Homo sapiens: one gene and its partners. The protein of the gene in region 4 interacts with the protein of the main gene of each other region in a pairwise test. Each region holds a gene or a part of one and is shown on either strand. Other genes may lie near its edges.

The links.
Region 1: the proteins of F11R (region 4) and AMBN interact in binary tests that used the Homo sapiens proteins (3 or more experiments, as listed by UniProt).
Region 2: the proteins of F11R (region 4) and LARP4B interact in binary tests that used the Homo sapiens proteins (3 or more experiments, as listed by UniProt).
Region 3: the proteins of F11R (region 4) and SLC35A1 interact in binary tests that used the Homo sapiens proteins (3 or more experiments, as listed by UniProt).

What each region holds. Positions count from the first base shown.
Region 1 is NC_000004.12:70,602,237-70,607,801, forward strand, and holds the end of AMBN (ameloblastin precursor), read left to right. Parts: intron 1-387; coding exon 388-426; intron 427-561; coding exon 562-600; intron 601-735; coding exon 736-774; intron 775-1,023; coding exon 1,024-1,083; intron 1,084-1,179; coding exon 1,180-1,224; intron 1,225-1,640; coding exon 1,641-1,685; intron 1,686-3,948; coding exon 3,949-4,494; 3' UTR 4,495-5,052; downstream 5,053-5,565. UniProt on the Homo sapiens protein: Involved in the mineralization and structural organization of enamel.
Region 2 is NC_000010.11:823,700-830,731, forward strand, and holds part of LARP4B (la-related protein 4B), read right to left. Parts: intron 6,036-7,032; coding exon 5,982-6,035; intron 5,896-5,981; coding exon 5,686-5,895; intron 2,172-5,685; coding exon 2,065-2,171; intron 1,618-2,064; coding exon 1,366-1,617; intron 1-1,365. UniProt on the Homo sapiens protein: Stimulates mRNA translation.
Region 3 is NC_000006.12:87,503,946-87,510,977, reverse strand, and holds part of SLC35A1 (CMP-sialic acid transporter), read right to left. Parts: intron 4,597-7,032; coding exon 4,530-4,596; intron 2,559-4,529; coding exon 2,382-2,558; intron 1,938-2,381; coding exon 1,803-1,937; intron 1-1,802. UniProt on the Homo sapiens protein: Transports CMP-sialic acid from the cytosol into the Golgi apparatus, functioning as an antiporter that exchanges CMP-sialic acid for CMP. Binds both CMP-sialic acid and free CMP, but has higher affinity for free CMP.
Region 4 is NC_000001.11:161,018,125-161,024,984, forward strand, and holds the start of F11R (junctional adhesion molecule A isoform 1 precursor), read right to left. Parts: upstream 3,029-6,860; 5' UTR 2,950-3,028; coding exon 2,886-2,949; intron 1-2,885. UniProt on the Homo sapiens protein: Seems to play a role in epithelial tight junction formation. Appears early in primordial forms of cell junctions and recruits PARD3.

The DNA of each region.
Region 1 (5,565 bases), on a different chromosome or scaffold from region 4:
CAGATTTTGAGAAGTTACAAAATTTGCCCAGGAGTACACAAAAATTAAGTGGCAGAGCCAGGGTTCAAACCAACCAGGTATGTTCCAGTTCCAAAATTCATTACTTTCTAATCTGCAAGAGATAGCAAAGCCATGATAGATGTGCCTCATCTCCCTGCAGGTACATTTGAGTAATGTTAGTAAAAGACCATTGCAAACTCTTGGGTCATACCTCCCAAAACACTAAAAGAAAGTAAAATAATGAAACTCATTTTAATTGTTTTATTGTAATTGTAAACAAGATAAGGATGTGATCAGTTCACTTTGTCTATTTTTTTATTTTTAATGTCACTTTGTCTATTTTGTTTATTTTTTGACTGATAATTTTAATATTTATCTGTGATATAGCTCCCAGGAGTAGATTTTGCTGATCCACAAGGTCCATCAGTAAGTACAGATCTCAATGAGACACTTTCTGTATTTTATTTTTTAATTTTTATTTGTTCACTTTTTTATTTTTATTTGTATTTAACTACTTTGTTCATTTTTTACTGATAATTTTAATATTTATCTACAATATAGCTCCCAGGAATGGATTTTCCTGATCCACAAGGTCCATCAGTAAGTACAGATCTCAGTGAGACACTTCTATTTTTTATTTTTATTTTTATTTGTTCACTTTGTCTATCTTTTATTTGCATTTATCTATTTTGTTCCTTTTTTGACTGATAATTTTAATATTTATCTGTAATATAGCTCCCAGGATTGGATTTTGCTGATCCACAAGGTTCAACAGTAAGTACAGATCTCAATGAGACACTGTCTTGCAAAAACTGTCTCTATATTTCAAAAAATAAGAGTGAATTTTTTCATTGTCCCATTTATCCATGAATATGAAGTATAATGGGTTCCTTTGTTCTCTTAAATATTAAATACTTATTTTCTATACTAATCCATCTGAAAATGTGTTTCATATACCTCAAAAATTACTGTTATGGGGATGTGCCTGTGAGAATTACTTATTCTGTTTTCTACCATTTAAAGATTTTCCAAATAGCCCGTTTGATTTCTCACGGACCAATGCCACAAAATAAACAATCTCCAGTAAGTTTTTTTTAATACCACATCTCTGTTTGCAATTTACTTAAAAGTTTTTCCATTGGAAAATGCATTTTGTGATAATGATTGTATTTTATTTAGCTTTATCCAGGAATGTTGTACGTGCCTTTTGGAGCAAATCAATTGGTAAGTCCATATTCTATAAAAAGTATTGTTTTTAATTAAATTTTATCTTAAGAGCTAAAATTCAAAAATCTAGGTCTCACACAAGAGATTCCAAATAAACATTCTCTGAACACCTACATTAGTACTGAAATATTAAGGAGGCAAACTTCCTATTTGGATAATCTTGGCCAGACACACACACACACACACGCACACGCACACACACGCACACAAGGGTATTAAAGAAAAAACAAATTTTAGATCTGAATTATCCGAGTTGACTACATTTATTCCATAATGACTCACCTCTCCACTTTGCCTCTGTACACAGCATTAATATTAAGGTTTAAGTGAAAACTAAATAACTTTTAACTTTGTCTTGAGTAGATAAGAAGGTAGCTGGTTCGTAATTTGACGCAATATTTCTTTTTGAACAGAATGCCCCTGCCAGACTTGGCATCATGAGTTCAGAAGAAGTGGCAGTGAGTAATGTCTTCTAACTCTTCTTAAAATAGTGGCCAGGGAAGAACAGTCACTTATGACTGGCTGCAAGAGACGTCTGCCATGAATGTAGCCAAATGAGCATGGGACTCAGATTTTTCCACTCCAAAAACTAAGCTTAATTCTGAAGCAATATCCAAAGATTTCATCATGTTTCCTATGTAATCTTTCATTTCTGGGTGATGACTATTCTTGAGCATAGAGTTTTGCCCCATTGCTTGTAGATGAACAGAGGAGAAAACTCCCCTTGAAAGGCCGTCATTGAACTATAAACACTTCAAACCAAAAGGATACACGTGGTTCATACAGAGTTCTTGTTCTTTCTGGGACCATTTAACCCCTCAAAACATCAAATTCAACAGCATTACAAGTAATTCAGATCTCAAAATTGAAAGATCAAAAAGCAAAAGAAAACCAAGTTTAAAATGTGATTATTATAAATGTCAATGTGCATTGTCAATGAGCATATACTCTTATTATGTTATCATTATCCATGCAAGTTTAAGATTTGAGATCAATAAAGTCATACAACTTGACTTTTTCCCTAAGAAAATTTTTGCCTGTTACATCTGTTAGAGCACAAGGCAAGACAAAACAAAAGCTATATTGAATTAACAAATCACTGTCAACTACAGATCCTGTCAAGTTAACAAACACACACACATATTATCTGTGAAAGAAAAATTACATCTCAGTATTTTTGTGTGCCTTCCATGTGCCACACACATAGGAAAATACTGTAAACAAGACAAGGTAAGATTTTCGTTTTTGGCTGGGCGCAGTGGCTCATGCCTATAATCCCAGCACTTTGGGAGGCTGAAGCGGATGGATCACCCGAGATCAGGAGTTTGAGACCAGCCTGGCCAACATGGTAAAACCCCGTCTCCACTAAAAATACAAAAATCAGCCAGGTTTAGTGGCGCGAGCCTGTAGTCGCAGCTACTCAGGAGGCTGAGGCAGGAGAATCACTCGAAACTGGGAGGCAGAGGTTTCAACGAGCTGAGATCACGCCACTGCACTCCAGCCTGGGCAACAGAGCAAGACCCTGCCTTAAAAAAAAAAAAAAAAGTCTTGTTTTCAAGGAACTTACAGTCTAATGAATGGAAAAGATAGGTACAAGGGCAGATACCTAATGTCAAAATCATGGGCTAAAAGTAATAACAATTTTATTAGAGAGAAAGAGTCAGAGAGGAAGGGCAGTTAGCCCAGTCCAGGGATTCACAGTATCATCCCTGGAGGAGATGATGTGAAAGCTGAGAGAGAATGAAGAGTCAGGAGAAAGGAGAAGGAAAGAGTATTGTATCTATATAGCACCAATACAAGTGGCTGGAAGTTCAAAATTCAAGTAAGTGTTAATTGCCATCACATAGTATTAATTATTTCTATTCTGCCTCATTCCCAAAAGATTTTGTAGAGCTTATGAAAAACACACAATAAATATAACAAAAAATTGAAAGTAGGATTTAAAATGAGTCATAATTTCAAGAAAATCAGAATACAGATATGCAAGTCACACAGGCCTGCTCAATTGCTACAAACAGCCTAAGATTTTGGACCCCATATTTCTGGCAGCAAAGGTAGAAAAAGAAACATGGTCAGTGCTGGTATTCTATTTGTCCACAAGAAGAAAATATTTTAGTTACTCCAGGGAAGTCACATTTTTTTTCTTAAACTTTGTGCTTTAAAAAAATTAAAGTCTTAGCTGGGTGCAGTGTCTCACCCCTGTGATCCCAGCTACTAGGGAGGCTGAGGCAAGAAGATCACTTGAGCCTAGGAGTTCTAGACCAGCAGCCTGGGCCGTATAATGAGACCCCTAAAAGAAAAAAAAAGTACATGGAACTTCATTTGGGGGACACTGAAAAATGCCATTGACAAGATTCTCGCTCAACAAATGCAGTTATGAATTTCAGTTCTTATTTGTTTTGTGATGGTAGTACTCATTTCAACTGCTTGTTTTCTTAAAATTAAATTCAAACTCACCTTTGCCTCAAGTCTTGCTTCTGCCCTGTTATCTCCCTTTTACGGAAATCATGCCGAGATCCACCCAGATAAGTGCAGAATCCTCTTCATTATGTTTCAAAGCCAGTTTAGTGAGAAATGAGCTTACACAAAGCTATCAATCAGCCAACTTCCTATTCTCCACCAGTTTTTTAGAGATCCTTGGTGAATGTGACCAGGTATAGCTGCATGGTATAGTTAATAGCATGTGATGATGGCATCTTTGACGAATGTTTTTTTTTCCAGGGCGGGAGAGAAGACCCAATGGCCTATGGAGCCATGTTTCCAGGATTTGGAGGCATGAGGCCCGGCTTTGAGGGAATGCCCCACAACCCAGCTATGGGCGGTGACTTCACTCTGGAATTTGACTCCCCAGTGGCTGCCACCAAAGGCCCTGAGAACGAAGAAGGAGGTGCACAAGGCTCCCCTATGCCGGAGGCCAACCCAGACAATCTAGAAAACCCAGCTTTCCTTACAGAGCTAGAACCTGCTCCCCACGCAGGGCTCCTTGCTCTCCCTAAGGATGACATTCCCGGCCTGCCAAGGAGCCCTTCAGGGAAGATGAAGGGACTCCCCAGCGTCACCCCAGCAGCTGCTGACCCACTGATGACCCCTGAATTAGCTGATGTTTATAGGACCTACGATGCTGACATGACCACATCCGTGGATTTCCAGGAAGAAGCAACCATGGATACCACGATGGCCCCAAACTCTCTGCAAACATCCATGCCAGGAAACAAAGCCCAGGAGCCCGAGATGATGCATGACGCATGGCATTTCCAAGAGCCCTGACAGCTCTAAGATATTAGCTACTTTCTGTATGCACAAGCTTCCCAGCTTTGTCCCCACAGTGTACCTTTTTGCTAAAACACTTATTACCCTTCTGCAGCAAAGGCATTAAAAGCGCTAAGCATATATTAATAAATGCAAGTGGCTAGAAATAGTGTAGGTCCCCTTCTTGCTTTCAATATCTTGTTGAAATAAAATGTGTCAATTGTCTCTGTGATTTAGAAACACTATTAATAACATCAGAGCAAGGTTCTAAGGGTCTCAGCATTTGATCATCACTTTTTCTTAGCTGTCTTAAGCATTATAGAATTTCTCTTACCAGCATGACACTATTATATTCAGGAAACATGGCACTGCTTTTTTCTCTAAGCAAAGGCAAATATCCTCATAATTCTAAGCTAATTCATTTAAACTTTATTAAATGGGGATTGGTGGAAAACTCCTGACTGGTATTACTGGGTTTGGTATAATTTAATTTAAAATTCTCATTTATAGAGTATTTTATTTAATCTAGTATAAAAAATCTAGCCTATTTTAAATAAAGAATTTTTCTCACTGAAATTATCAGGAATTGTATGCTTATTATTTATATAGATTTAAATGGTTCAAGAAAAGCATACTCATCCTCTACCTTTGCTTCTCTTTAATTCATTGTATTCAATTCATTCATTCTTTCATCAGAATTTTACTGAATATTCATGTCCTGGGTGCAGTGCAAGGTATCAAAGATACAGTCCCTTCCTTCAAAGCTTACAATGGACATGACTGACAAGTAGACAATCACCATAACAAAACCCTAGACCAAGCTCAATTACTTTACATATATTATCCCACAACAATACTGTGAAATAGATACACTCAACCCCACAGCACATGTGAAAAGTGCTATGAAAAGGCCAAGCACAGGGTGCCCCTGGAGCCACAGAGAAGAAGTGCCTAACCCAGCCTGAGGGTCATCGGAGAGTCTAGGAGGAATCAGACAAGTTTTCTCAGAACAGTTTCTAGAAACGGTTTCAAGAGCGAGAGCCCTCACTCTCCAAGAGGAAGAAACAGAAAAAGAGCCATGTGGGTGTC
Region 2 (7,032 bases), on a different chromosome or scaffold from region 4:
AGCCCCAGCTCTGCAACCCTCCTCCCTCCAAGCGTCTGGGTCTTAAGAACCCCAAACTGAGACCCAGGGCTAGCAACTGCTCCCTGAAGTCACTGACTCTCCATGACACGGTGGGCCCCTTTTGGCTTTGCATCTCCAAGGCCTGTTGAGCCAACCTGATGCCATGTTTCCTGTGAGACACAGGCCAGTGCCAGCTCTCCCAGACCATGGTGCCTTCCAATGCCACTGCACAATCCCTGCAGGAACTCCTATGTGCTCATTGAATCATTATGGGCAGGAATGAGATGCTTCTGATGCCTCTTCATGTTGAATTCTCACTGCACAGAGGGTGTGCACTGTGGCAGGCAGGAAGAGGAGCTTGCACGTCAGGGATGGTGCTGTACACATTGTATATAGAACACCCTGAAAAAGCTCAGGTATTTGAGTCACTTGTTTGTCACTTATGAGAGGAAAATCCTGACGGTCCTTACCAAGGCAAGGACTGAGAAGATCAACTGGCCTTATCAACAATGGGCAGGTGCGGTGGCTCATGCCTGTAATCCCACCACTATGGAAGGCTGAGGCAGGAGGATGGCTCTAGGCCAGGAGTTCAAGACCAGCCTGGGCAACACAGCGAGATCCTGTCTCTACAAAATATTTAAAAACTAGCCAGGCATGGTGGTGTGCATTTGAAGTCCTAGCTTCTCAGCATGCTGAGGCAATAGGATTGCTTGAACCCAGAAGTTCAAGGCTGTAGTGAGCCATGATCATGCCAACGTACCCCAGCCTGGGCAACGGAGTGAGACCCTGTCTTAAAAACAAACAAACAAACAAACAAACAAACAAAAACCTACTACAGGATTGATGCCAAAAAAATGTTAAACAAAACCAAAAATGGTGGGCAGGAAGCACAGCTAAGACCCGTCCTGGCTAGTCTCAACCCTCCAATGAGATGAGACTGCAATGCTGATCTGCCTGGTTACCCGCTCCAGGCTCCACCTGCAGTGCCTGGTGCACACCCAGCTGGAGGGCGCCAGGCCAGCAGCCATGGGGCAGAGCCTGGACACCGCCCTTGCAGAGGGGCCTGGTGAGCCAGGGGTGCTGCCAAGAGGAGACTGCAGGCACATGGGATGGAGTCTATGGCTATTGAGCTCCAGTGTTTCTACAAATAATGATCTAAAACAACTACAGTTCTCACTGAACCATTTCATATTCCAAAAAAGATGAAGCCATTTAAGTCTTAGCAATTATATAAAACCCTTATGTTTATAGCCTTCAGTTAGATTTTCTGTGACATATTTAAAGACAATTACAAAACATATCTAAATTAAATAATTTTTAAAATATTAGTTTATGATGTTACACAGTAACTGCTCAACAACTCACCTTCCCCTCCCTAAACCAGGAGAGGATTCGAGACTGCCTGGCTCCACACGCCCAGGCCCAGCCTCTCTCTTGGCATATGCTGAAGGGTTTTGAATCCGTGTTCTAGTTTGACCTGCTTGCCTTGTTTGTGGACTCCGGACACCATTAATTAATCGATCTGCAGTGAAGTTAAATATTGAAGGACTTTCTAATAACCCAGGTCCCCTCTCTGCACTAGGAATCGCATGCCGCAGATGAGATTTACTAGGATTCCTGTAAATAAAAATGGTTTTATGTGTTGAGTTATAAAATGATCAAGGCATTACATAACATGCATACTGACATGGAATAGCTAAGCTGAAATCTGCTCTCTGTTTAATAAAGTATAAAAATAGGATTTGGAATGGTTAACTCCTAACATATAGGATAATGCAAATCTATTAACAATGTGCCACAATTCTGCTTAGCTGTTTTTCAGTCCAGGCCCAAATTAAAATCAGGCACACCTGATGTGTACAAGTTGCCCCAAAGCCTCCTCTCAGAGAATCTGAGGCGGGCACCCATGCCAGATTGTAGTGCTTAGTCTTTACAGAATGCAGCTGTGTGCTTCAGGTGGCTCTGTCTGCGAGGAGCAGGACTAGTGATCAAAGCTCTCTCATCCCAACTCCGGAAGGGCAGTAGCGTAAAGACCAAAACTGCTAAGACCGCCCCGGAACTTGCCTGCTTCGAGGAGGATACTGTCTGAGAGAAGTCAGAGGAGACGCCGCAGGCTTGAACGCTGGAGACGTAAACCCATTTATAAATCCAGTATTTGGAAATGGAGTTACCTAGATTCATTTGAAAACAGACAAGTAAATAAACCATAAAACAGACTTCAATTTCATTAATACCAACAAATCTGTGGAAACTGAGGGCATTTCTTGATGTTGTCAGAGTCATGACCCATGCTGAGACATGTATTTTACAATTTTATCACCAATGGGTGCTGTTTAGAAGTAGGCTGGAGCTTTTGTGCATCCTTTCAGCCAATCCTTACAACAATCCAGCGAGGAGAACTGACACATGCGGAAGCAGGCACTGAGAGGAAAGACGTGGTCAAGAGCGCATGGGCTCCAACAAGTGTTGTAACCTTTAGCATGTCAGTCTGATACGACCTCCATCACTGGCAGGAAGTCAACAGTTCTTGATTCCTGATGGCTTTAATACAACTCATCAACATTCTCAATCTTAGGAGCACCTGCACACCCACTGCTGCTCACTCGGCTTCATCCAACCACAGCCTGACAGGGCCTTTACCTTTACCCCGACACAAGTCCTGCTCTGCAGATCAGGGTATTTTCAGATCATCATTATTCCCCAAGTCACAAGGTAAGTATGGCATGCAAATATACTAACATAAGATTCAGAAGAAATTAGAAAGGGTCACAGAACCCCTAAAAGATCTTAAGTAGTTAAAAATATTGAGCATAGAATTTTAAGTATCGGCCAACTATTTTTAAAATCTAGACACATACAAAAATAAGATAAAACTTATTGTTAAAACAGTTCCTTTAAAAACAAACAAACAAACAAAACTCAAGACCATTCATTCTAATTCTCTGGCTTCTGGACCCATGGTTTCCAATACGTTCTGCATCACTGATATCTCGCTCCTTATGCTCCTGACACAGGGCACTTAGTTCCTGAGGGCCTTCCAGTCCACACCCTCAATGTCACTAAAGTGACAGAGATACGCATAGAGCCCTCCTTGTTTGGAGGAAGAGAGAAAGGAAAGGAAAAAAGCAAGTAATTCTCCTTAATTAGAGCTAACTGGAAGATATAACAGAAAAAGAATATTATAGCTTAGGACTAAAATAAAATCATACAAAAGGGAAGTTAGAATCTTCAATTTGCTACTTGAGAAACTCTTCACTCTGTAAGAATCGGACTTTTTAAAATACATCACACATGGCCGGGCGCAGTGGCTCATGCCTATAACCCCAGCACTTTGGGAGGCCAAGGGGGGGCGGATCAAAAGGTCAGGAGATCAAGACCATCCTGGCTAACATGGTGAAACCCCGTCTCTACTAAAAATACAAAAAAATTATCCGGGCGTAGTGGCGGGCGCCTGTAGTCCCAGCTACTCAAGAGGCTGAGGCAGGAGAATGGCGTGAACCCGGGAGGCGGAGCTTGCAGTGAGCCAAGATCCGGCCACTGCACTCCAGCCTGGGCGACAGAGAGAGACTCTGTCTCAAAGAAAAAGAAAATACATCACACTTGAAGAGCCATGAATGCAGACCTGGATCTGAGGCTGTAAATCATGGGCAGAGCAATGAGGACTAATCATTTCCAGCAAGTCATTTTACAGACAGAGCCCTGATATTCCAGTAATTTTGCTCAAGATAAAAAATAAAATTGGTCATATATAAAAAATAAAGTTGATTATTAATGCGTTCCTATTATTACTTGTTGGGGATTAATAGGCACAATCTCTTCAGCTGCAGAACAAAGGACGCACATGTTTTAGCACAAGTAAAAGGCTGCGATGGAGAGCCCCAGTATCACAGACTCAGAGCAGGACCAGCTGTCTGGCACACACCGCAACCTGAACATACAACATAAGTCAAGGCCATAAGCTGACCCAGAACCCCAAGGATCCCCGAGAGGGTCAACCATGATTAAAGAAACGGAAGAAGCAACTGCTGCAGGAAGAACTGAAAGGACTAGCATGGCAAGCCACGTGCAGCGATGATTCTTCAACACCCAGAGCCTACGGACTCAAGTCTCTCTGAGGTTCTCTCATGATATGCTTTTGGGAAAACGAAGTATTCAGCTATGGGTACACTTTTATAGAATGTGCTACTTCAAAAAGCCAGAAACTTTTCTTACCATCAGGACTTACTCAAAAGAGACAGAAGTAACTTTACCAAAGGTTCTTACACTGCGGTGGTTCCAGACTCAGGGGGAATTGGGGTCCTCTGAAAATCTCTCCCTGTCCCCACCTGCCCTTCACACGGCCTTAGGAGCTATTTTCTAAATGGAGTATGGTTTCATTTCTCCGCTTAGAAACCTCAGACACCTTCCCACAAGCACTAGGCCAAAGCCCACATGCCTCAGGACAGCTAAGCACCTGCGCAGTTAGGCCTGGAAACTGCCAGCTCGTTCCCCAACTCCCTGCCACCCGGTGTACGCTTCAGCTCAGACACCCATGAATCTACGACCATCTTCTGTTCATGAAACTTCTCTTTGATTCCTTCTGAAAAACTCATACTTAACCTGAAAAGCTCAACCTAGATGACAACACAATCCCTGATAAGACCTGTCAGTGTTCTGGCATTCTGTACACGTGTCTCCTTGGCATGTTTGACTTTTCCAGCCTGAGTTGTTTCATGGACCCGTATCTTTACTTTCCGTGTATACAGGCACTTGTTTTCTCAAGTTCTCTCTGCTCTGCACCTACCCTCCTTTTCTGCCTGTCAGCGGTGACATCCCTGCACATCAGGGTGCCTGGCTCCCAGCCATCCGACCCTGAGGACCACTCAGTCTTTCCCTTAGTCCACAGCGAAACCCTGGACATGAACTCTTCTCAAAGTTACTAACTCAATTTCTGCTTTCTGACCATAACCTTCTATGTATGCTACCCTTCAATCTCTCCAATTCCAACTAACCTGCATTGCTACCTCATGCAAACCTCTAGGCCATGAACCCATCTTCACTTCTCAACTAGACTTCAGCTTCAAGGACATGCTCATCCGTGTATTGCTGACTCTCGTGCATCCAATGCCACCAAACTCATGCTAATTCCCACCCAGAATGCACTTGATCTTTCAAGCATCTATAGCAGCACACAAAGAGACAATGTCTAGATCCAGTACAGACTTATGAATTCCAACCATAGGCCTTAACAAAGGCCAAAATCCATAAAAATTAATCCTGTCGACCAACTCTAATGCTGGTGAGAAGTGAGTAAAATAAGGCTGGTAAAACAGCAGGCCTTCTCCTTGGCCTTGCTGTCAGAAGCCTATTAAACACCTCTTCCTCCTCAGTTAATCCCCCTTGCATTGTACTCTGTGTAGGGGACGCCAGGTACACTACAGCACTTATCGCCCTCTGCGTCTTGCTAAGAGCTGCATGACAAGAGGGGAGACGGGCTGTGCAAGGATTGTGCTCACAGCAATCCAAAGTTCTTTATGCATAAGCTCTGTTCTCAGCTACATTTAAAATCCCCCACATAACTTGAAGGTCTGTTTTAGTATGTCAGACTGCACACATATCTGGCTTCCTATTAGATGAGGATTTTAATCCTTCAAATTATCTAGCATAGTGTCTACAACATAAATTCCTAGTAAAGAAATGACGTACCAAGGGTGGGTCAAGATAGCTGTGCGTTGCTGACCACGTCTGGGGAGTGATCAGGCTGTACAGGGGGAACTGCTGCTGGGGGCTGTACATGGGAGGGAAGTAGAACGACGTCGCGTAGCGCTGCTGGGCATACAGGCTCACGTCCAGGGGTCTAAATCCATTCTTTGGCAAAAATGTGTTTATAGCTATTGCCTTTGCTTTTATCCGTGCCTGTTTGAAAATATGTAAGTTTCTATTAGAATACTTAAGAACATCAATTTGCAAATAAACAAAGTATAACCAATGGTCTTGCTTACCTTAATTGGTTTTCCTTGAAAAGTTTTGACTTCTTCTCGAAGGTATTTGTAAGCCTAAGGGCAAAATTAAGTACAAAATTCCATTCGATTAACCTTATGAATAAGAGGCACCAATAGTTCACTCAATAGCTCAAATAGGGAAATATATAATTAAATTATGGTGAACAGAACCTAGAATAATGATTCTTGACACTCCCTGGGTCACAGATCCCTTAAAATAACCTCATAAGAGCTATGGAACGTGTACCCCAAATTCTCACAAACAAGATTTGTACACAATTTTGTAAGTATTAACAGATGCCATAGAAGTCTCCCAAAGACCACTGGCTAAGAACCTTGACCTGGTGGAAAATGATGAATACTGAGTTCCTAGTATTCATCCCAATTTCAGATTAGGAGAATGCAGTTCAGGAAATACCAGACAGGAAGGAAAAGGATTAGGATCATAACATCCAAAAGTCATTCTTGATATATCTCCTTGTTCTTCTCCATGTTAATTCTACATTAAACCCCTATAAAACTGTGAAGGCCCTGCACCTGATTCAATATCATCCGACCACATTCGCCACACGGGCTGGCAGAGCTCACACTCCACTCCACAAAAATGGTTACTCTATCTTCCGTTCCCCTTTTCCCCCTCCATCCAATTAAAACCCATCTTTCAGGTTTCTGTGTTTTCTTTTCTGAACCCCACATACTGTTTATACCATTTAACACTTTATAATATGTGCGTTAGTTTCCTCACAAATAAGATGCTTCCCTTAAAAGCAGGAAAACTACTAACTCCTCACGCCTCCTTACAGAGCTTACTTCTCAATACCATTAAAAGCATCTTCCAAAATACAATGAAGTCTGCTGGGAGATGAAGATTAGGTTCAAATTTCCCCCCAAACACTTTGCAAATAGTAAAACTTCTCTGCCCAGATAGAAGAACAAAACTGATTTTCCTAGGTTGCTTAGCTTGTTGTCCTTAGAAAGTAAAATCACATGCTTTTTATATTGCTATAAAAATTGTCCATACAAATACACTCAAATATTTAAGTTTCTACAA
Region 3 (7,032 bases), on a different chromosome or scaffold from region 4:
TCATTCAAACCATTGATAATTTCTTAATCGGAGATGAGGCGATAATTTACTGAATAAAACTACATTTCCTACTAGTCTTAACCCTTTTTTCATCTTTTTTTTTTTTGAGACGGAGTTTCGCTTTTGTTGCCCAGGCTGGAGTGCAATGGCGCAATCTCGGCTCACCGCAACCTCTGCCTCCCAGGTCCAAGCAATTCTCCTTCCTCAGCCTCTCGAGTAGCCGGGAGGAGCATGCGCCACCGTGCCCAGCCAATTTTGTATTTTTAGTAGAGACAGGATTTCTCCACGTTGGTCAGGCTGGTCCCCAACCTCAGGTTATCACCCGCCTCAGCCTCCCAAAGTGCTGGGATTACAGACATGAGCCACCATGCCCGGCACCTTTTTTCATTTTAATCTTAAAAATCAGGATGCAAGAAACCAAATCATAACTTGTCCTAACTTGACAAATAAATATATTTATATGACATCAAGCTTTATTTTAGTTCACTCCTAACTAAAAAAGACCAGCTTTGCCTTCAAAAAAGGAGAAGGTAGGATAAAAACTTGTATCTAAACAGTTAACTGAAAGATTGCTAAGACATGCTAGTTGACCATCAGTAAGAACATTAAACAAAAGCATTTTCTACTGTTCCTATATATTTCTTATGAGCAATGGTATAAGGATTTTGTTGAACATAAAGATAGATCAGAATTACAGCTAAAAGTTCACCCAAATCAGGTAGAAAAACATCTAAGGGAAAGCCTATAAGTACCTGATACTGAAATGGTAAGTGGTTGGTAAGTAGTGTCAAACACTACTCTAAGCACTTCACCTGAAAACACCACTAGGCAATAGGTGATATTATTCCCATTTTACAGATGAAGAAAGTGTCACCCAGGGAATATAACTTCCCCAAGGCTGCACAGTTAAGAAATGGTACAGGCAAGATTTGCCACAGACTATACATGGTTTTCTAAAATTTCTACAACACTATTTCCATTTATATACAGGAGTCAATTTTAAAATGAAATGTAAATATAAGCCAGGTCTCTTTTACTTAATATATTTAACAGATATTCTTCATACATTGGTTTATATTATAATAATTGATCAGTAAAGAAAATTATTACACTATAAAAGCACCCTGAAATGTTAAGTCAATATCATTGCTTAAATAATTTAGAAGCCAAATTAATGCTGGGTGTGAGAGTTGGGAAAATTATATTAGGACTAACAAAGCAGTGGTACTGGAATGCCAGCTATATTAATGAGTTTTGTATTAATTACATATTGAATGAAACAAAGATACAAAAGACAAAATCTAGATTTTGATTGTTTTCAAAACCGTCTCACACCCAAATGCAAAGCAGTTGGAAAGTACAAGCTGAGGGAGGACTAAAAGATGTTTTCTACATTCTTCTAAATAATGAGCCAATATAGTTTAAACTGACTGCTGAAAATAATTTCCTAAAGTCTTTATATGTATTTCCTTGAGTACCTTCTCACATTCAGACACTCAAGTTGTCCTATATACAATACCTAAAAATACAGGGAGGCCTTGACTGCAAAAAAAGTCCCCTCACTTTCACATAGAACTAGCACCCCTCGTCTTAACCTCTAAGACCACCTAAACAACCAAAGTACTGCTTAGCCACATCCCACACAACTATGAACAGCTGTACTGGTGGAATAAACTGTAGTAACAAAGCTAGGAATTTCTGTAAACAGTATGACCAACTGCCACTTTTAAATAAGGGATTAAATGAATCAAGGAAATGGGAGGCTCTTCCATGTTAAAAACTCAACACAAACTAAGACATACTTATCTGTAATCCAAACAGCATTACTGAAGCAATGGTGGAAAGGACAATGGCCGCTGCTGCAGAAAAGCCTTTCATGATGTTGTCTGTGTACTTAACCACAACAGAAGTGTAGAGGCCACCAACACTTGCAAGAACTTGTATACAGAGAGAAATAAAATCTTATCACTCAAATAAATGAAACATTACATAATGGTGAGGCAATTTTCATCCCCAGAGATGCCATACTTTACCTAGGAAAAGGAAAATACTGTTTTCCTTAGAAGGAGCCATCTGAGAGTTTGTACTAAAATTGGTAGTTCCTATATAACACTGTTTTTCCAAAACAATGCCCAGAGGGCTATGTGGTCTATTAAATTTTACACATTTTTTGCTAATGTTAGATATTTTGGGGCATTGCTATCCCAAAGCAATTTTGCCTTCACAATCAAAACTAAGTCAACAAAATGAAAATTATATTCAAACTGGTATTTACAGTATCAAAGGATTAATTTCAAAATGTTATAACAGCTTAAAATGGACATCTAACTTAAAAAAAAAATAAAGGATCTACTAAGAACCTTTAATTCCTGGATACTTACAGATGACAAACCAGACATAATATGTGTAACCATAGAAAAATCCTTTTTCTTTAATTTCAGCTCCATCTGACAAGTAGACGCCAGCTAATGTCACAATAATCCCTGATAGATACATTTGAATGTTTCTCACCCAAAGAGAAGTATCTGAACTCTTTAAAACTTTTTCAAAATATACTCCTGAAAGAAAATTAGACATGCAAATATTAAAGATTACTATAAATTAACTTAAAATGTCTTTCATTTAGAACAATACCCTAGAGATATATAAAGTATATGATTTGGGGAACAAAACATACTTTACTTAAATGTGCATTTATTATGTAGGTTGTGTGACACATGACATACTGTACATTATAAATTTATGTTTTTACAGAGTATATAGAATAATAACTAATTGGGAAGTTTATAAGCTACATTTAACAGAAGGCTGTTAAATTAAGACAGTTTCTGCCTTTATTAGAGCAGTAAGACCACAAAAGCTCTCTGTACTACTTAATGCCAGTATGTCATTTGCTTTGGTCAGCTGAAAAACTACATTAAGAGTGAATTATCTTAATCACATCCCTGTAATATCTGCCTACTAATGAATACTCCTAATTCTGCAATATAATCTATAATCACCACTAGGAATCTTTTCAGAGTAACAACCAAAACTGAAGTAGAATTTGCTGTGTAAAGCCATTTTCCTTTAAAGCAGGGTTCCACAAGCCAAGTTCATACACAAGGTCAGAAGGATCATGAACTCCCCAACTGGATAATAAATTTTGTGTATATGTGCATTTTTCTGGAGTTGAAGGTCCATAGATTTTTTCAGATACTTCAAAGGAGTACATGATACCCCTCCCCAACAAAAGTCCCCTATCTCTGGATTTATGCTTAAAATGAATGCATATTTTACAAAGCCATTAAAGATTTTAGTTATAAATATCATGCTAGAGACTTAGGAACTGCCAATGAAGTACTTATCAACTAAAAAGTCTAACGAAAAACAAGATTATTTTTGATGAGTCTGTTGGAATGGGAACATAAAATAGCTATTCTTATTTTCACCTCTGATTTTACCTTCTGGGAGAAGCATTTATCCAGTGCTCAGTTACCGTAAACACAGAGAGATATTAAACCACCCTCCATTTCCTCAATTGTGTATTAAGAGAGTGAACTAATAAAATGTTGGACATAATCATTTAACTGTTCAAAATATTGCAAAAAATCAAATAGCATATTTTTTAGGTAACTCAATTTTTGTTCCCAATTTGTTGGTTTCTAGAACACAATGCTATCAGTAAGTATATTCCTGAATTTAAATTTTCCCCTCGTATAAAACATCTTATTTACAAGCAGTATTTTACTTCTGTATTCAGCCTGCTTTCCTAGTCAAAAATAGTCCTGACTTGAAATAGGTACAAATAAATAATAAAGATGTATAGCTATAACTAATATATTCTACTAAAAGCTTTAAGCAGAATATATTAAAAACTAAATCTCTGCTGGAACTATTTCTAAAACTTTTTTTATGTTACACTTAATATTCATACTTTCTTATCTTGATGCATTGGAGGAGTGCTTGTCCCTACACATACAACGCCAGACTTCCGTGGATTGTTGATGTTAGTGATTTTGTGTTGTCTTTCCTCCCTGTTTGGTTATTAGCTTTATGTATTATGTTTTCTAAGGTACTCTCGACCCACCTCATGATCCTACTCCATAGCTCCTAACCTGTTAAAGCAGAGAAAGAACTTGAGGTTATAGGGGAAAAAAAGATACTTAGCTGGTAACATTAACAACCTAAAGCAGCAGGATCTGACTTGATAGTGGCAGTTCCAGAAAAAAGGAAAGGGCTTTCTGAAGACTAATTTCCTCCATTTTCAGAAGTCTTTTTTCATTTACTTTTGGGTTTTTGGCCGGACTGAGATGGTCAAGGATAACAGAAGTAGTTAACTGCAAGTATGAATAGGGACTGAGTCTGAACTTAGTTGAACAATGCTATACATTTACTGGAAAAACAGCTGACATAAAACTAAATATAAGCAAGAAGATCAAGTTTAATGGGAATAAAACTGAGAAAGCAAGATAAACTAGACTGGTGTCTAAAGTTTGATGTTTTCGAAAAATATGACAAAAGAATAAAACAATGCTTTCATGATTTACCTGCAAATCCTGAGCACAATACAGCAATAGCTATAGCGCCAAACCCTAATAATGGATTTTGTTCCACCTGCAATATTAATTGTTAAAGTTATTTTTAGTGACTAATAAACAGAGTTCATCCAAGAGTCCAAACAAATAAATACAAAAACCTGTTACAGTCTTACTAAAAGTATATTCCACATCAGACACAGCTATTCTACAGAATAAGACAACTAAACAAAAAGACCATTCCAGAAATTAACCAGGGCACTTGGCTTAAGTGAAAAATGTGTCCCTCAAATCACAGCCATAGTATATGCTTAATATAATATGTGCCCACTGTTTCCTAATACCAATAAGCACTCTAGCATGAACTTTTGAACAGGCCAAGTCAGCATACTACTTAATTTTAATTTCTATTATCACTCTAATTTAAGAGCTTATAGCATCAATCCTGAAAATGATAACAATTTAACTTATTTATTCCTCATCACCTACAGGATACAGTGCTGCCTCTTAAGACTCCCCAATTTATTGAATTTTTAGTATACCTTCTGTGTACCAGATACATTGTCTATACACACTGCTGTGGTTTGAATGTCAACTTCAAAACACATGTTGAGATTTAATTGCCGTTCTAACAGTATTAAGAGGTGGGCATTTAAGAGATGATTAGGTCATGAAGGCTCTGTCCTCAAGAAGGGATTGATGCCATTACTGAGGGAATGAGTTAGTTATTGAGGGAGCAGGTTTCTGATAAAAAGGATGAGTTCAGCCCACTTCCCTCTGTCACATGGGATCGCTTCTGCCTTCTGCCATAGAATGAGCCTCACCAGATGCCAGCACCGTGTTCTGGACTTCCCAGCCTCCAGAACCATGGGCCAAATAAACTTCTGTTTTTTATGAGTTACCCACTCTGCGTATTCTGTTATAGCAGCAGAAAATGGACTAAGATACATACTAAATGAATAAAGAAGATTACAATACACAGCTCTGTTATGTATAGGCAAAATTGACAAGTATATATAACCAAAATAGTGTGAGACCAGTGCTCACAGATCCAAGTATATGGGTCCTAACCCTCTGTTTCACTTTATTTTCTCTTTCTTTTCTAAACTGTCAGGAGCTTTCATCAGTCTTTCCTGAAAGATAAATACTATCTCAATAGTATCACTGAAATTAGAGGGTTGAGATTCATGACTGTAATATGACAAGGAAGTATATACCTTGTTCAAAATAAATAAGCCTGATATAAGAAAAGTGCCACTTTATGGTACCTGAGAGAGCAAGCTTGGTCTAAATTGTTTGCATGAAGATAAAAGGAGAAACAGAAGACACTGTAGACCAGTGGTTCTCAAAGTATGGACCCTGGATCAGCAGCAGTGGCACCACTGGGGGTTTGTTAGAAATAAAAACTGTCAGGCTCTACCCCAGACCTACTGAACCATAAACTATGGGAATGGGCCTAGCAATCTGTTTCAACCAACCTTCCAGTTGATTCTGATGTACGCTAAAGTTTGAGAACCACTGCTATAGACTATACATTATTAACAAGTATACTTTCCTATAATACAAATTTCAAGACTGGCATAGATAGAATAAAATCATAGTGTGAGATACCACCTATCCCAACATCTGCTGGGAAGCTCCAACTGCTAAAAATAGAGTGCCTGATAAATTCTTGACTTAGTTTCCTGCCAGTTGAATGTCTCTACAGTTAGGAAAAATAGTGATGGAAACAGCTTATCTGGACTTGATTCTGACAAGAAACTGCTGGGTGATGAAGTAGATGTGATGGGAACTTTGGCAGAAAGCAACCATGTGATCTGAGCATGAGCCAAACACAGCACAGTTAAGAGACATGTGCTCCAGTCCTGAATAAATCAAAACTCAAAAATGTAAAACTTCAAGTTAGAATTCCATGGCTCGTGAGAAGAACATTCAAGAGAGATTAAGAGTTACTGAAGAAGGAGGTTCTGGTGAAAAGTAAAAAAAAGAATACATAAGGAAATCAACATATCTAAATAAGGGCATCTTCACTGAATTCTGATTTTACAAGAACAAAGCCGAAGTACAGATCACCAAGAGGAATCTAACCAGGAATTTAAGAATAGTATCAAGAAATCGAAAACTCAGAATAAGTGGAGGCTTGCAAAAAATCCTGTAAGGCATTAAAGAAAGCTTTTTTTTTTTTTTTTCTTTTTGAGACAGGATCTTGTGGTATAATCATGGTTCACTACAGCCTCAACCTCCTCGGCTCAAGTGATCCTCCCACCTCAGCTTCCCAAGTAGCTGGGACTACAGGCATGCATCACCACATCTAGCTAAGTTTTAAATTTTTTTGTAGAGACATGGTCTCACTATATTACCCAGGCTGGTCTTGAACTCCTGGGCTCAAGCAATTCTCCCCGCCTAGACTACCTAGCTAAATAAATTTAAAAGACTATCAAGAAAAGTAGGTGAGTTAGTGTATATAAAGCATTTAGATAATGCTAGTATTTAGTGCATTATAAATGATTGCAGC
Region 4 (6,860 bases):
GGAAAGGGAGGCTAGTACTCTGGGTCATCAGTTTTACTTTTCCCAAGTCCAGCTCTCCCAGTGTCTACCCTCTGGATCTCTGCCCCACAGGGTCAGGGTTTCCCCTCCATTAGGTTCCCCAAGCTGGGGCCAGGCCTTTGCCTGACTTGTCAGTCCTATCTTGCCTTTTCTACTTCCTCCCTGACAGCAGAGCCCACAATGAAGAACAGGGAGAACATATGGGCAACCTATCCACGCCTCTCAGGGACAGTGGACAAGCTAGACACCCAAGAAAAAGCTCCTGCTTTTTGATTTCTGACTCTAGCCATTTGGGATCTCCCTGCTTCCTTTTTTACCTACTCAGCTAGGGACAGCATTCTGGCATTCTTCCATCCTCACAAAATCCACAGGGGATAACAGCTGCCCAAAAATAATCCCTTCATGTATATGTAATGTAACTATTATGCTGGTTGATCCTCCTGACAAAGGTGGGACAAGTATTACTGCTATTTTACAGATGAAAAGACTGAGCTACTGCCTAAGATCACAAACAAGGCAGAGAGAAAGCCAAGCTAGAATGCAGGTATGGTGGCCCAGCTCCCATTTCCATCCTCATTTGCACTAACCAAATCACTCCCCTCCCCCAACCCAACCCCAGATCTAGCCTGATTTAAAAGTTACAAGGTCAGTTCCTCCATCCCCTGGACAAGTCACTTCCCAGGACCCACTGTCCTAACAGGCTAATGCGACATCATCTCAGGTTCCCTCTGCACTACTGTGGCTTGGTTCCCTGAAGACACCTCCAAGCTCAAAATGGTGTTATCATGACCTTCCAGTGCCAGTATATGATTATTTTAGGATTATCATAAATAATATAGGAAATTAGAGGGAGAAAAAAGAAAGGAAGCAGTGGCAAAGGATAGGGAGTAAGCAGCTCCAGGAAGCTTTTAAGCCTGACAAATACTGTCACAGACAAACACTGTTACAAATACAGTCACTCACACAGAAGAAACTTCTGGGCTTAGGGGAAAAATACTGGCACAGTACAAAGGTTGGAAAAACCTTTAGTACCAGAACCACATAACCAAAAATTGACTATGGGTGTCACTAGCAGTTCTAAAATACAGGCAGAAGTAAAATAGGCAAGGGGTAGGGAAAAAAGGGAAATTAAAGAAAAGGGAACTCAAAGAGTAGAAAAAAAGGAAGACATGGCCAGCCGCGGTGGCTCACACCTGTAATCCCAGCACGTTGGGAGGCCGAGGCGGGTGGATCACCTGAGAGCAGGAATTCAAGACCAGCCCGACCAACATGGTGAAACCCCATCTCTACTAAAAACAAAAAATTAGCCGGGCGTGATGGTGCATGCCTGTAATTCCAGCTACTCGGGAGGCTGAGGCAGGAGAATCGCTTAAACCCGGAAGGCGGAGGTTGCGGTGGGCCAAGATGGCACCATTGCACTCGAGCCTGGGCAACAAGCGAAACTCTAACTCAAAAAAAAAAAAAAAAAAAGAGGGAGACATGAATGAAGAAGCTAGTGGGAAAGTAAGTTTAAAGGTAAGTAAGACAGTAGATTCTGAAGCAGTATCCCAAACAGTTCTTGTGCTATAGGGTGCCTGAGATGCTGGATCAAAGAATGGAAAAAGGAAAAGCAAGTCAAGAGGGTTTGGTTCCATTCCCAGGTTCCACCCCTAACTCTATTGTCATTGAAGTCATTTCCCCTTTTGGACTTGTTTCCTTATCAGTAAAATAGAAAGAGGATGATATATGCCTCTGGTCCAATCTCTCCCAAGGGTTTATGTTGTGATAAGGTAGAAATGAGCAGTCAATCCATCTAAGGGCAGGGAATCTACATACACCAAACTGATTGTAATCATTCATTTAACACTTTCTAAAACAAGAACCTTGGGGGTGGGGGGAGACTCATGTAGAACACATACTGACACAACTACTCACACAACGACACGCACACTCAAGAATCAGATAAACACACAGGTACTGCCACAGGTTGACTAACGCACAAACCAACCGACTAAACGCTCAGCCCCACACAAACACATCTAGAGACAGAGGCATGCCCTAGCAAGTGAGCCTCATTGTTCCTCAGGAAAGGGAGTTTACAAAGGAAACAAAAACTCTCATACACAGCCAGAGGGAGGGCAGAGCTCTGGCTCTGATGAGAATCCAGCCAACCAACAGATACACTCTCCCCCTGGGAAGAGTCACTCAATCAACAACACGTATTAAGGACTCCTGAGGTAGTTATTCCATAAAGGAACTTCGCTGGAACCTCTGCTGCGCTTAGAGAAATTTCAGGTTTCTATTGCATTTCCTCTTTAGACTGTGCACCCAGACATTTTCCCAGAGCAACCGCCGCAATTCAAAGATTCAGAAGAGCCAGAGACTCCTTCAGCAAAAGCTAGGGGAAGAGACTTCCACCCCAGACCACCTCCATTTGATTTTCTTCGAAGACCGTTAAAGGAGCCAAGGCTCCCGGCTGCGCAGCGGGGTTCGTGGATGCTGGGTGGCCGTTGGAGGGGCAGGCTGGCCCTTCCCAGGTGCGTGTGGAGCGCGCGCTGGGTAGATGAGTGTGGAAGGGTCCTTGGCCCGACGGCCCTCTCCAGTGAGGACGAGGAGTGTACCTCTGGTGTGTGCAGATGGGTCAGCTCCCTCCTGGTGGCCGTGAGGGGTGCGGTCACAACTCACCAGTGTGGGGGAGGGGAGCCAGCCACTCACCCAGCTGTGAGAGTGGTGAAAGAGGGACCAGCCAGGGGTGGAAAAGATAATTCGCAGAACGATATAGGAAGGTTTCTGAGCTCCTCCCCTCCCGCGGGCTAGGGGCGTGGGGAGAGCCTTCCTCCAACCTCTGACCCGACCAACCGATTCCTCCCGAAACTCTGGGAACTTACACAACAGGATCGCCAATATGAAGAGGCACAACAGTTTCCTCTCGACTTGCGCCTTTGTCCCCATCGCGATCAGGCTCCCGACACAACAGCCGCCGAAGGACTCCTGGGAACAGACACAGCTCCGCGACTACAGCGAGGGGACTGAGAGCCAGCCGCCAGGTGGAACCCCGCCCGGCCCCGCCCTCCGCGCCTGATTGGCCAGCTCCCCACCCCTGCACGTTCCGATTGGTGTAAGGAACCGCTGCTCTTCAGAACGAGTCACCTCGGCCAGGTGTTACCCCGCCGCCACTCCCCGCCTCGGCGCACTGGCGCCTTTCCCCACAGGAGCTGCCTCAGATTGGCCCAGGAGACTGTCGCGTCAGGAGACGAATTCCGCACCTTCAGCAGGTGACGGCCCCCTGATTGGTTGGTGTTCCCGAAGTAGCGACTTCCTGACTGGCTGGGTTCTCAGTTGGAGCTAGAGGGCTGAGAAGTACCTCTAAGGAGGAAGTAGGAAAGGCAGTCGTGGTGTGGGATTTACGGAGACCGGCTTGGCTTGGGGTTTTGTGTTTGTTTGAATGTAAGTTGCTTGGTGCAACTGCACCTGCAGTTTGGTCCTGCAGAAACTTTGGTCCTGCCTCTTGGCAAGTAAAAAACAAATATTAATATGGGAGGGTAGGGGAGAAGACCCGGAGAGAAATGGAATGTTACTTTGGCACCACCTCCAAACTGTTCCTCTGTCCACCCCACCGGCTTTGAGAGATGAGCTACGCTGGGAGGAAGAAAGGGGAAAAAAAAGGGAAAGGGAGCACTCAACTGGAAAATGGGAGCCTGGGCAGTATAGTCCCAGCTACTTGGGAGGCTGAGGTGGGAGGATGGCTTGAGCCCGGAGGCGGAGGTTGCAGTGAGCCTAGATCGCGCCACTGAACTACAGCCTGGGCGACAGAGCCAGACCCTGTCTCAAAAAACAAACAACAACAACAAAAATTTAAAAACCCACAACAACACAACTTGGGAAGAGCAGAATTACGTTATCTCAAGAAGAAAGTTAAACAGATGTACACAAAACACACCCAGATGATACAAACTGAGCTGAACATGCTCTAGAAACATCTCTGGGTGACTGGATATGTCCTTTACACATATTTGATCTGTGAACAGGTCCCTACATTTCAGAATTGTTTGTTTTCTCACTGTGACTAATAGTTGTGTGCTGACTAAGCCACCTTTTTTCTATAGACAATGTTGATACTCAAACTTTCTGTTAATATTTATATTGCTACATCATTTTTAATTGAAATTCATGCTCAACACCTTTGCTAGTTGTAGTTTCTATTTTACGATGATTTAATTTTAACTGTACTAAGCATATGCAGACTGTGGGGAAAAAACTTCCTTAGCATTACCTCATTGCAAGGGAAAAGACCACATTTTTATCCAAAAGAATGATATTGTTTGACATTTTGCCTTTTTCACCTTTGCTCTCATTCCTTTGTCCCCATCTCTTTGGCCAAAGTTCTGCTTCTGGTTCCATTCAATTTAAACCACCTACTGGGTGCTTAATAGTCTTGGCCGGGTGCGTGGCACACGCCTATAATCCCAGCACTTTGGGAGGCCGAGGTGGGTGGATCACCTGAGGTCAGTCTGACTAACGTGGTGAAACCCTGTCTCTACTAAATACAAAAAAAATTAGCCGGGCGTGGTGGCACATGCCTGTAATCTGAGCTACTTGGGAGGCTGAGACAGGAAAATCGCTTGTACCTGGGAGGAGGAGGTTGCAGTGAGCTGAAATCGCGCCATTGCACTCCAGCCTGCTGGGCATCAAGAGCGAAACTCCGTCTCAAAAAAAAAAGAAAAGAAAAGAAAGAAATTTAAAGTCTTGGAGAAAGGTATATACACTGACAGCTGGGCTCTGTGACGTGTGCCTGTAATCCCAGCTACTCAGGAGGCTGAGGCAGGAGGGGAGGATCACTTAAGGCCAGGAGTTTGAAACCAACCAGGGCAACATAGGGAAAAGACTCTGTGTCTAAGAAATTTTATTTATTTATTTATTTTTGAGACGGAGTCTTGCTCTGTCGCCCAGGCTGTAGTGCAGTGGCGCGATCTCTGCTCACTGCAAGCTCCGCCTCCCGGGTTCACGCCATTCTCCTGCCTCAGCCTCCGGAGTAGCTGGGACTACAGGCGCCCGCCACCATGCCTGGCTAATTTTTTTTTGTATTTTTAGTAAGACGGGATTTCACCGTGTTAGCCAGGATGGTCTCAATCTCCTGACCTTGTGATCCGCCCGCCTCGGCCTCCCAAAGTGCTGGGATTACAGGCGTGAGCCACCGCGCCCAGCCTATTTATTTATTTTTATTTTTATTTATTTATTTGTTTTTTGAGACGGAGTTTCACTCTTGTTGCCCAGGCTGGAGTGCAATGGCGCGATCTCGGCTCACCGCAACCTCCGCCTCCCGAGTTCAAGCGATTCTCCTGCCTCAGCCTCCCTAGTAGCTGGGATTACAGGCATGTGCCACCACGCCTGCTAATTTTGTATTTTTAGTAGAGACGGGGTTTCTCCATATTGGTCAGGCTGGTCTCAAACTCCCGACCTCAGGTGATCCGCCCACCTCGGCCTCCCAAAGTGCTGGGGTTACAGGCATGAGCCACCGTGCCCGGCCTTTATTTATTTATTTTATTTTTGAAACAGGGTCTTGCTCTGTTGCCCAGGCTAGAGTGCAGTGGTGCAATCATGGCTCACTGCAACCTCCACCTCCTGGGCTCAAGCAATCCTCCCACCTCAGTCTCCTGAGTAGATGGGACCACAGGCGTTGCCACATCCTGCTAATTTTTTCTTTCTTTCTTTCTTTTCCTTCCTTCCTTTCTTCCTTCCTTCCTCTCTCTCTCTCTTTTCTTTGTTTTTGTTGTTTTGTTCTGTATACACGATGTCTTGCTATGTAGCCCAGGCTAGTCTTGAACTCCTGAGCTCAAGTGATCCTCCCACCTCAGCCTTCCAAAGTGCTGGGATTATAGGCGTGAACCACCATGCCCCGCCAGAAAATTAAATTTAAAATTTTTTTTAATAAAAAATTAGCTGGGTATGGTGGTGTAACCTGTAATCCTGTACTCCGGAGGCTGAGACAAGAGAATCACTTGTGCCCAGGAATTCGAACCTGCAGTAAGCTATGATTGCACCACTGCACTCCTGCCTGGGCAAAGGAACAAGAAAGATCCTGCCTCTTAAAAATATAAAAATAAATAAAAATAAATTTAAAAAGCATGCATTCACAAATATAATAATAGCCATGTTACACTATTGAGTTATATTCAATTTACAGCATACTAAAATGGGTAAGCCCTTTATTTTCACTTGAACTACTGTTAAATTGGGTCTCCCACATCCTATACTTATGCATTTTTTTTTTCAGATGGAGTATTGCTCTTGTTGCCCAGGCTGGAGTGCAATGGCGCGATCTTGGCTCACTGCAACCTCCGCCTCCCAGGTTCAACCGATTCTCTTGCCTCAGCCTCCCAAGTAGCTGGGATTATAGGCCACCACGCCTGGCTAATTTTGTATTTTTAGTACGCGGGGTTTTTCCATGTTGGTCAGGCTGGTCTCGAACTCCCGACCTCAGGTGATCCGCCCAACTCGGCCTCCCAAAGTGTTGGGATTACAGGTGTAAGCCACTGCGCCCAGCCGCATTTCTTTCTTAACCAAAGTACATTTTGCATTGATCTCTATTCAATTTTATATTTTCTGTTTTGAAAATATTAATAATGGACAAGTATACATGAAATATTGTTAATAACTAAAATGAAAAAAGTAAATACAAACAGTGTGCACCTCAGTTATTACTATATAAAACATCTGCATATACAGTTACAAAGCATGAAGGTATTTTAGAGCATGCAAGTAATTTGATGTTCATCAGATTCTTTTTCCCATAAAGTTGCTTAAATGTATAATAAATGTTAAAATTTCATTGTCATTGACATTTGTTTTCCATAGTCCTTCAA